Homo sapiens: one gene and its partners. The protein of the gene in region 1 purifies or fractionates together with the protein of each later gene. This does not show direct contact. Each region holds a gene or a part of one and is shown in the gene's direction. Other genes may lie near its edges. The genes, in order: TTC14, CCNQ and AMPD3.

The links.
Region 2: the proteins of TTC14 (region 1) and CCNQ purify together in Homo sapiens (affinity purification with mass spectrometry; one large-scale study listed by BioGRID and IntAct). This does not show direct contact.
Region 3: the proteins of TTC14 (region 1) and AMPD3 purify together in Homo sapiens (affinity purification with mass spectrometry; one large-scale study listed by BioGRID and IntAct). This does not show direct contact.

What each region holds. Positions count from the first base shown.
Region 1 is NC_000003.12:180,608,245-180,611,630, forward strand, and holds the end of TTC14 (tetratricopeptide repeat protein 14), read left to right. Parts: exon of another isoform or gene 1-456; coding exon 457-566; exon of another isoform or gene 567-1,385; coding exon 1,386-2,298; 3' UTR 2,299-2,886; downstream 2,887-3,386.
Region 2 is NC_000023.11:153,589,049-153,592,700, reverse strand, and holds part of CCNQ (cyclin-Q), read left to right. Parts: coding exon 1-195; intron 196-3,652. UniProt on the Homo sapiens protein: Activating cyclin for the cyclin-associated kinase CDK10.
Region 3 is NC_000011.10:10,461,718-10,465,369, forward strand, and holds part of AMPD3 (AMP deaminase 3), read left to right. Parts: coding exon 1-23; intron 24-3,652. UniProt on the Homo sapiens protein: AMP deaminase plays a critical role in energy metabolism.

The sequences.
Region 1 (3,386 bases):
AACTGGGCTGTGCTATTTTTTTAAATGGTTTGTATTTGAACATGGTGATTCCTCCTTCACTTCACCTTAACGGAATGTCTTTATTTGAATTTTATTTGTAAAATGTGTCCTGTTTAAATTTTTCAATCTTTAAAAATAATTTTTATGTACTTTTTTTTTTTTTTTAACCTTTCTTGCACTCTGGGTCATGGGTACCACTGCAATGGCTTCCCCTTTTTTTATGGGATACCAACTGCAATATGGTCCTCAATGCTGTTCTGGCCATTTCAATGACTAATGCCAAACATCTGTATGACTAATTTTTTTATGTTAAAAAAATACTGTTTAATGCTGGCTCTATGGTGATTTGGTTTTACTAAATTGGGTTTCTCGTTGGGGGTGGTCTTTTGAATACTGGGTTTTATATATTCTGCTATTTTTAACGTGTGGTTTTTTTCGATATCTGGGTTCTAAAAGAAATCTTTGGAATTAAGAGAAAAACAAGCTGAAAAGGAAGAAAAGCAGAAAACAAAGAAAATAGAAACAAGTGCAGAAAAGTTGCGTAAGCTCTTAAAAGAAGAGAAGAGGTAAACTATAATATTCAGTATTTTTAAACTTAAGGCAACTACTGAATTGAACCCAAAGTGCCATACTGGAGGTAAAGTAAATAAAAATATGAAAGTATTTCAAGTGCCAATCAGTGACTGTTAAGAATCTTTAGCAAATATGTGTTCCATGTATTTTCTTATTAAAGAGATGAAGTGGAATTTAAGGCTAGAATTCTACAAAAAAAGAGTATCTTAGAATTAAAATATAGAATAAGTTACTTTAATTATGTTTTAGGAAGAAATATTTTAGAACTAGAGCAGTGGTTCTCAACTAGGGGTGGATTTATTCACCCGGGGACATTTGACAAGATGTGGAGACATTTTTGATTGCCATAACTGATAGGGTGCTACTGCATCTAGTGTATAATGGTCAGGGATGCTCTTAAACATTCTGTAATGCACAGGTCAGCTCCCACCCGCACCCCCACCCCCTACCAAGAATTATTTGGCTGAAAATACCAATAATCAGGTGAAGAAACCATGAACTAGAGGTAGCCAAATAAAAAAGTTGAGTTCTCCTTTATGTGTTCAGTAGTCTTAAGTTTTTAAGGTAGTGTTGAAAAAAGTCTGTCTTTCAGAGATGATGGATTTGCTTACAATGATACCTGTCTGCAAGCATTTTTTCCCCCAAAAGTGCTTAATAGTAAAATTAGATCTTGTAGTAGCCGAGATTATTGTATCATTTATCTGAACCACAGCTTTTATAAAATCTTTAAAGGAAACAAATAGGGCCCACATCTTTATGAATAATTTAGAAACATTTTTGTATATATATGACAAATGAACTGTTTTTTTTAGGCTAAAGAAGAAAAGAAGAAAATCAACTTCTTCTTCAAGTGTTTCTTCTGCTGATGAATCAGTGTCTTCATCATCATCCTCTTCCTCTTCTGGTCACAAAAGGCATAAGAAACATAAGAGGAACCGTTCAGAGTCTTCTCGCAGTTCCAGAAGGCATTCATCTAGGGCATCCTCAAATCAGATAGATCAGAATAGGAAAGATGAGTGCTACCCAGTTCCAGCTAATACTTCAGCATCTTTTCTTAACCATAAACAAGAAGTGGAGAAACTACTGGGGAAGCAGGATAGGTTACAGTATGAAAAGACACAGATAAAAGAGAAAGATAGATGCCCTCTCTCTTCATCTTCACTTGAAATACCGGATGATTTTGGAGGTAGGTCTGAAGATCCAAGAGATTTTTATAACAGCTATAAAACCCAAGCAGGTAGTAGCAAAACAGAAAAGCCATATAAATCAGAAAGACATTTTTCCAGTAGAAGAAATTCCTCAGATTCCTTCTGTAGGAATTCAGAGGACAAGATTTATGGTTATAGGAGATTTGAAAAGGATATAGAGGGAAGAAAAGAGCACTATAGAAGGTGGGAACCAGGTTCTGTGAGGCATTCTACCTCACCAGCAAGCTCAGAATACTCTTGGAAGTCAGTTGAGAAATACAAAAAATACGCTCACTCTGGATCACGTGATTTCAGTAGACATGAGCAAAGATACCGTTTAAATACAAATCAAGGAGAATATGAAAGAGAGGACAATTATGGGGAGGATATCAAAACAGAGGTTCCAGAAGAAGATGCACTAAGTAGCAAAGAACACTCAGAAAGCAGTGTTAAGAAAAATTTACCTCAGAATTTACTGAATATATTTAATCAGATAGCTGAATTTGAAAAAGAAAAAGGAAATAAGTCAAAAAATTAATACACCAAGGATATCGGCACCATTACACAAAATGCCATTAAGTGAAGTTTTTGGTTGTATTAGTCATAACAGTTGAGTGCAGAAATCTCTGCTTCTAAAATTATTTGTAGAGATTACAGGAAACAAATGCTTTTAAGTAAGTTTTTCTCAAATTTTGTTTCAGTTCTAGGTCCCTTGTCACAGCTTGGTTTTTAGACTTTTTATGTATATGTTTATGTACAGTATATTACTCTTGACAGTTTGAATTTCTTCACCTAAAGATAATTCTCTGAAAGTACTGTTTCTTCATTCTATTGCGGTATATGAGAATTCCTGGGTGCATCTTATTCTGCTGTTTGAGAGAAAAATTTGTGCATTGAACACTTGGATCATTTTTATAAAAATTAATTTCATTTTCTTTTCTGTTAAATTAAAAATCGTCAGCTTTTGAAAGATTATATGTTCGAATGTTTCTTGAACACTTTTATATTTATCAGTTTAAATATTACATTTTTTGCCCAATTTTTTTTAAAATTTTTAAATGGTAGATTATATGTCTTAATTTTCCTCTAAAGCCCAATTTGATTAAAAGTGGTTTGTGAACAGTCATTGGCTTCCACCCAGCATAAGTGCCTTAGGAATAAGATCATAAAAGTTGAATAGGAGCCCATTTTGCTTATTTCTCCATTATTTTTTACCTCATTGCTAGCATAGCCATAAAAAGCTTTTTAACTTTAAATATTTACAAGGCCCTTAGGGCCTGTATTCCACGCAAGGGTAAATCAGAAAAGAAAAAAATCCTTTTAGCAAAAACATAGCAGTAGCAGAGAAGCACATTGTAAATCTGGCTTTTCTTTAGGGAAAGAAAATTGGGAGACTCTCCTAGTGTAGCAGATGTTCAGTCCAGAAGGCACTAGGCATGTCGTTAAATCTGACCTGCATTTCTTCTTACCACCTCCTGTGCCTTGATGCTTCTCTGATGACCCCTTTCTCAGAGTCTGAATAAATAACTAGACCAACTAGAGCCTGGTTTTACTAAGAATAATAAATTCCAGCAGCTAGAGCTGAAGAACAAAGAGACTTGGATTATAAAGATCCTCCCCAAATTG
Region 2 (3,652 bases), on another chromosome or scaffold:
TGGCTGAACCGCCACAGCTGGCAGCGGACCCCTGTTGCCGTCACCGCCTGGGCCCTGCTGCGGGACAGCTACCATGGGGCGCTGTGCCTCCGCTTCCAGGCCCAGCACATCGCCGTGGCGGTGCTCTACCTGGCCCTGCAGGTCTACGGAGTTGAGGTGCCCGCCGAGGTCGAGGCTGAGAAGCCGTGGTGGCAGGTGAGGTGGCTGCTTGGCACACTGGACGTGCCCCCTTTCCCTCTGGAAGTCTCTGTATTGCAGTGCTCACCAAATTCTATTAATTATCCATGAAGAAAGATACGGGCTGCTGGGGAACATGGAAGCTCGAAAGTACCCTGTTGCGATGGCCTGGGACAGGCTCTCCCCCTCGGCACAGTTGCCATTTAGGGGTCCCGGATGTCGAACAGGAGTGCTGGCCTCCACCGACGTCGCCGGTGTCCCGGGAGGAGGGTTGCCCCAGCGGAGAACCGCTTTTACTGAATTGAGTGGGAACTTGACTGTGATCACAGGTTACTAAACCTGGCTTCCCATCAGAAACATCTGGGGTGCTTTATGGAGAGGGCTGGATGGCTAGGTAGGTGACAGCTAGCTGGCTAGTTGACAGACACCTGGATGGATAGGGGAGAGAGCTGATGGGCAGGGTGGCGGGTGATTGATAGGTATTAATAGGTAGATCATGGAGGGTAGATGGTGGAACTCTGTAGGCCTGTGCATAGGACAGCTTTCCAGGTGGCTGGTGCTGTTCTGCATAGAGGTAGCCCTGCCTCTCTTCCCTGGCCCGTGTGCCTTGTGGAAGACCACAGCATTTGCTGATTTTTGCGTGTTTATTGTGTAATCTCGTATCCCCAGTCAGCTGTGAGTGCCTGAGGCTGGGCATCTCTTCCCCAGTCTCCCGCGCCTCCCTGGCACCAAAGCGGGTGCTCATGTGTCTTTGAACCCATGCACCCATGTTCCCAGTCTCAAGCCGGAAGCACCCTGTCCCCAAGGCAGTGTGCAGGTGGTGCAGGGCCATCTGTGTAGACAGTGTTGCCCCACGCTCGGGCTGCTCAGGGACTTTCACATAATGTGGCTGCCTCGTGCTCAGGGTTGGACTCTGGGGGGGGCAAACACCCTCTGGGGACATCTGGTGGGTGTGGCCCTGGCCCTGGGCTGCCTGGCTATGCTGCATCTGTCTTCCTTTCTGCTCTGTCTTCTGCGCTTGCTCGTAAACCTCACCTGGTGTGGCAGTACCACCTGCGTCCCATGCTCAGCCCCTCCCAGAGGAGTGCGAGCCCAGGTAACCCTGCACAGCCAGGAAGCAGCTCTACCAGCAAGTTGTTTGCTGGCGGCCCAGACTCACCCAGTCATCGTTCAGACTGGGAAGAAGTTACCCTTTGTGGGGTGTGGAACTTCTGTTCAGCCAGCTCTTCTTAAAGGCTCTGCTAAACTTGACCTGACCTTTGCCTCCCAGCTCGGGGCTGTGCACCAGAAGCTTCCGGAATCCAGGTGCCTCCTGTGGGCTGGCGGGGTGCGAGGGCCTGATCCCCCATGATGAGTGAGATCCTGGGAGGCCTCACCCACCCGGGTGCTGCAGAGCTCACGGCCTGGCTTTTGAAACCCTTTCTTCCTTGTGTGCTCTCGGCTGCCACTTCTTACGGTGACTCCTGTCACTTATCTGCCACGGGCTCAGCATGGCAGCTTGATGTGCTTCCCTGGAGAAGCCTGCCTGCACTCTGACTTGCCAGATGAGCAGGGACAGTAGCGGGGTCAGAAATGATGCAGGTCGTCACGCAATGCTGCTGAAACTTCCACGTCCAGAGCCACACCGAGTGCCCTCCATCCCCTTGTTCCTGAGCAGAAGGAGAACCTGCCTCTTTCCAGCCACTGCTGCTTTTTGTCTTATAAGCAGATGGACTGCCCTCAAAAAGGCAGAGTCCCCAGAGGCCAGCAGTGTCTCCTCCTAGGACTTGGGTCTGTGTCTCTTCTGCTGTCAGGTGCCCCAGGGTTGCCACCTGTTCTGGACTGTTACATTTAATTGTGGTGACATAGACATCACCTAAATTGTACCACGTTCACCATTTTTAAGTGTGCGGCCCAGGGACGGAAGCACATTCACGGTGCTGTGCAGCCATCACCACCATCCAGCCGCAGAAATTGTTCATCTTCCCAAACTGAAGCTCTGGCCCCGTTCAACCCCAACTCCCCACCCCCAAGCTCCTGGCACCCAACCTTCCACTGTCCTCTACAGAGTTCACGGCTCTCCTTTGAGGCCCCTCACAGGAGTGGAATCCTACAGTGCGGGCCTTTCTGTGACTGGCTTCTTTTGCTGAGCACAATGTTGGAGCCCCCGTCTCAGAATGTCCTTTCTTTTGATGGCTGAATCATATTTCATGGCCTGCATGGACCATATGATATTAACATATTCATCCATCGATGGATGCAGGCTGCTTCCACGTTTTGGCCTTGCTTTTTTTTTTTTTTTTTTTTTTTTTTAATAGAGACAGAGTCTCACTCTATTGCCCAGGCTGGAGTACAGTGGCGCAATCTCAGCTTACTACAGCCTCCACCTCCTTGGTTCAAGTGATTGTCCTGCCTCAGTCTCCTAAGTAACTGGGATTACAAGTGCCTGCCACCACACCTGGCTAATTTTTGTATTTTTAGTAGAGACGGGGTTTCACCATGTTGGCCAGGCTGATCTTGAACTCGTGACCTCCAGTGATCCACCCGCCTCGGCCTCCCAAAGTGCTGGGATTACAAGCGTGAGCCACTATGCCCAGCCCCTGAATGTTTTTTAATGATTGCTTCTGAGCTTGGGGTCTCCAGGAGCACACAGGTCATGGACCCCAGCAAGCAAGTGTGCATTTCTGAAGTATTTGTTTTTCACCCAGAGCCCAGGGTAAGACAGCTATGCTTCCTGAGTCAGGACTTGGAGGGCGTCCAGGTCACCATCTCCTACCTGAGGTTGTAGGCCACAGAGGAACCTAGGGTTCTTTGGGAGCATTCAGCAGGGGTGGACGTAGGTCCAGTTCTTGCCTTGACTTGGCCCAAGGCCTTGATCTGATTGGTACATTGGTTCCCCAGGCAGCAAGCTCTGGCACAGGGTGGCTACAGACGCAGCATCTGACCAAGGTCTTGCTGCTTTACTTACTATTTCCCTTATCATTGGGGATCCCGAAGAGCACCCTGGGGCTCAGTGCTGTGCCGGGAGGGCTCGGAACTCAGAAAAGCTGTCACACTCCCAGTTCCGGTTTATTACAAGGAAAGGACACAGGTTACCGTGAGCGAAGGCTCAGGGCGCACAGGGCGGGCTCCAGGAGAGACCAGGCGTGAGCTTCAGCGGCTCCTCGCCCAGGGGAGTTGTGCAGACGGCACCTGTTTCTTTCGGCAACAGTGTGGGACAGCGAGCACGGAGTCACAACCGGGAAGCTCATCCCAGCCATGGCGGCCAGGGTTTCCGTGGGAGGTGGTGGGCTGCATGGGCATGGAGCGCCTGCGTGGCCAACCCTGGTCACTTGGGCTGCAGCCACCAGAGATCTGGCTGGGACTCTGTGGCCCAAGGCCCTCACCATAAATGATGTGGTTAGCACAGACCGCCTGGCAGTCCAGTAAACCAAGACGCTCACACGGGGCAGGATTTTCTAGGGGCCTAGAGGTTATCCTCCAGGAGCCAGGCAGA
Region 3 (3,652 bases), on another chromosome or scaffold:
AAGTCTGTGGAGACCGCAAAAAGGTTTGTTCCCAAGGCATGGTTTTCGTGTACATAGAGTCATGCAGACCCAGGCAGGCTGTGGGTGTGTGTCCTGATATGAGGCACCTCATGGGGACTGGTATGTCCCTAGAGCTGTGTTGGTTCCTTAACCAAGACCACTTAACTCACCTCTTATTTATTGAGGGATGTCTCGGTGCCTCTGTTGCACTGAAAAGATCAAAACCCACTTTGCTGCTGATGTGAAAAAATACACACCATTTCCAAATGGCATTTCTCTTTTCTTTTTGGAAATTTGAGGATTTCTTAGGAGACAGCAATTGTATTTCTTCTCATCACTTGACAAGCATTTTGCATTACTAATGAACACAGCTTACTATTTGCCGGGTGCTGTGCTGGGACTGGAGATGTTATAATGAACAAGATAGATAGAGTCCCTGGGTCTAGACAATAATTAAGTAACTGGACAAATTAACTTAAAAATTACAAGTTATAATAAGTGCTGTATCAGTCAGGGTCCAACTAGAAGATCAGAAACCAATGAAGTATTAGAATTTTAATGCAGGGAATTGGTTACACAGGTGGTAGAGAGCTGAGAAACCAAACAGGGGAGAGAGAGGCGGCTCAGAGATTAGACACAGTAAGGAGCAGCTACTACCCAGGACAGGAGTGACAAGGAAAGCAGTAGTGTTTCTGGAGCCAAGGTGGAGTCGCCCTGGGGAAGGTGGAACTGTGGTGGACTTTCCAGTGGAAACTGGAGCCAAGGGGAAGAGGTGGCAGCTGCAGAGATGCCTCCCAAGGCAGAGATGGAGGCAGGCAATACCTCGTTTGACCCTTTCTGCACCTTCCAGGTTCTCCCAGTGGCTGCCATGGGCCAAACCTAGCCAGAATCCTGCTGGCACACTTGGGAAACACAGGAGAGGATGAGGAATGGATCTGAGGGCAAACAGGCCCAGGAGCAGCGCAAGTGCTATGAAAGAGATGAATAAGGATGAGATGGGGTTAGGGGAGAGAAAGGCCGGGAAAGAGAGAGAAAAAATCCTTTTTTAGACTGGGAAGTCAGGGAAGGCCTCTCCAAGGAGATGACATCTTAGCGGATGCTTCAGGGTATAAAGAAGCTAGCTATGTGGCCTTCCAGATAGAAGAATCAGCTAGGGCAAAGGCCCCCCAGTTTCTTCCAGAAGGCCCATGTGGTTAGAGGTCTGTTAAAGGAAGAAGTGCTGTGACCAGGGCTGGAGGACTTGTGGGGCCCAGATCAGACTGGCCTTGTGCTCCCTGATAAGAAGTTTGGATTGGAGTCTAAGTGAAATGAGAAGCCCTCATCCTTTCACAGTTTATCTCACCCTGGGCTTTATCAGATTTTCTGCCTGCCCGGTACCCTGCAAACATCAATAGTTGACATGGTAGACCTTTGAGCCCTCTCCGACCTAGTCTGTGATCACACTAGATACTGCCTCAGTTTTAAAGGCAAGTCTTTTCCTTTCTTGGTTGTGTAGAAGCTCGCATTTTCTTAACTCGTTTGGAAAGAAGTAAAAAGTTGACTACTGGTGTAAAGGCAAGAACAGAGCTTCACCACTCATAAGACCAGTGCTTTCCTTCCTTGAAAGGATGGTGAGCCCATAAAGGCAGGAGTCACTGGTGCCATTGGTTAACCTCTGAGTGCCAGCCTTGTGTTGGATAAGGTGGGGTGGCCCCAGCCCCAGCAGTGTGCTCATCCCTGGAGGGTCAAGAAGAGTATGACTGTAGAGACCCTCATTCACACTCCGTGGGTGGAACAGAAGGGCTGACTTCATCAAGTGAATGGTCTGCAGGGCCTTCTGTGTGTTATGAATTGAGCATTTGAGACCCTTAACAATGAGAGGAAAAGAAATCCTGGCATTTTTTATTACTAGGAACAATAAGTTTCTGGAACCAGTTTCCACTACAGAGTGACACTGGGCCTGACATCTGCTGAAGCGACTGTGCTCTTCTCAATGCCCAGACTCAGGGCAAAATGGAAGCTTTCTTACTCTAAGTCTTAATGGTGCTCTGTGGTTTCCAGAAATTCCCCTGCAAACTTCTCTCCAAAAACTTTGTTCTGTCCTTGCCTAGGTTATGGTGTCTTAGTTTGCATCTGTCTGCGCCATTTGACTAGACGCTCCTTGAGGACTGGATCCATTGTGGAACTTAGTTGGTGGGCAGTGGATGTCTGGCAGAGGAAGACATCCTGCCTCCCCATTGCCACCATGGACACTACATCAGGGTGGCTGCAACTTCTTGGACCTCTGTGTTCTGCCACTCACTGTCATGCTCTGTGACTTTGGGGAAATTAGGAAACCTCTCTGGGCCTCAGCCTCGTCCTCATCTATAAAGTGGAGATGCTAACAGCTACCTTCATGGGGTGTTGTGAGGAATGAGGGAATCCACAGGTAAAAGGCTTCGGACAGTGTCTGGTTATAGTGCATCCCGAGTAAATATAAGTGATTTCTCTGACTTCCTGCTGCTGAGACAGGGAACAATAGCAGCTCCTGCCATTGAATACTTACTATGGGCTAAGTACTAGCCTGTGTAGGTTGGATTCATTCTTTAATTCTCACATCGAGCTTATCAAATGGATATTCTTAGTATTCTGATTTTGCAGATTAGGGAACGAAGGCTCAGAGAAGTTGAATTTACTTTCACAAAGACACATAGTGAGTAAATGACAGAGCAAGAACTAGAGCCCATATCTTTTGAATCTAGACCCCACACTTCAACCATAAGGCTATCCCCTCTTCAGGTAGGGGTGGAGTCTTCGGTTCCCTGGTCTGTAGACCCTGGAATGACACTAGGTGCTGCTCCCTAGAATGTAATTGTTGCTTCTAAATGAAATGGAGGGAAACTGGTCAAAGCTCCCGCTCTGTCCATCGGCTTCTTTCCTGAAAAAAAGCTTGGTCCCTGGACTGTCAGATGCCCCAGCATCCTCCTCTGGGGTCTGCCCATACCCAATTTTGTCTTTTAGTTTCTCTTCTCACTAGAGGTGCCTTTATATGTAAATGTTCGAAAGTTAACATTTTCATGGAGGACACCCTCTCCCCAGCTCCCTCTTTGTCTGTGGCACCTCCCATCCCATCTCCTATTTATTCTTACTTTACACAGAATTCTATAATCTGGCTATATTGTTTCTTATCCCGTGGCAGATTTAAAGAAGCAAATTAGAAGCAGGGAGAGAGACTTCTACAGGCAGGGTCACAGAGGTGATGTGTGGTGATTATAAGCCTGGGCTTTGGGGTCAGACCTATTGGGTTCAAGTGGCAGCCCTGTCACTTACTACTGAATGGCCTTGGTCAAAGCTCTTGACTGCCTGAGCTGGTTTCCTAAACTGCAAAATGAGAATAATAAAAGGACATACCTTGTGAGAATTAAATGAGCGAATACACAAAAAATCCTTAGCGCAGTGCTTGGAGCACCATTAATGTTCCTGTTTTGTTATTGTTGTTATTAGACAGTCAACAGTGAGAGAGGAAACAAAATAATTATGAAAAGCAGGCACAAGAATTTGAAGCACAGTAGTTTAGGGATAACACACCTCTGAGATCATAACTGGATAATACAGTGATGATCCTGGGTCATTGAGAAAACTTTAAATTATGTTCAGCATGCTTTGAGGAAGAATGCAGGAATTATGTATTTTT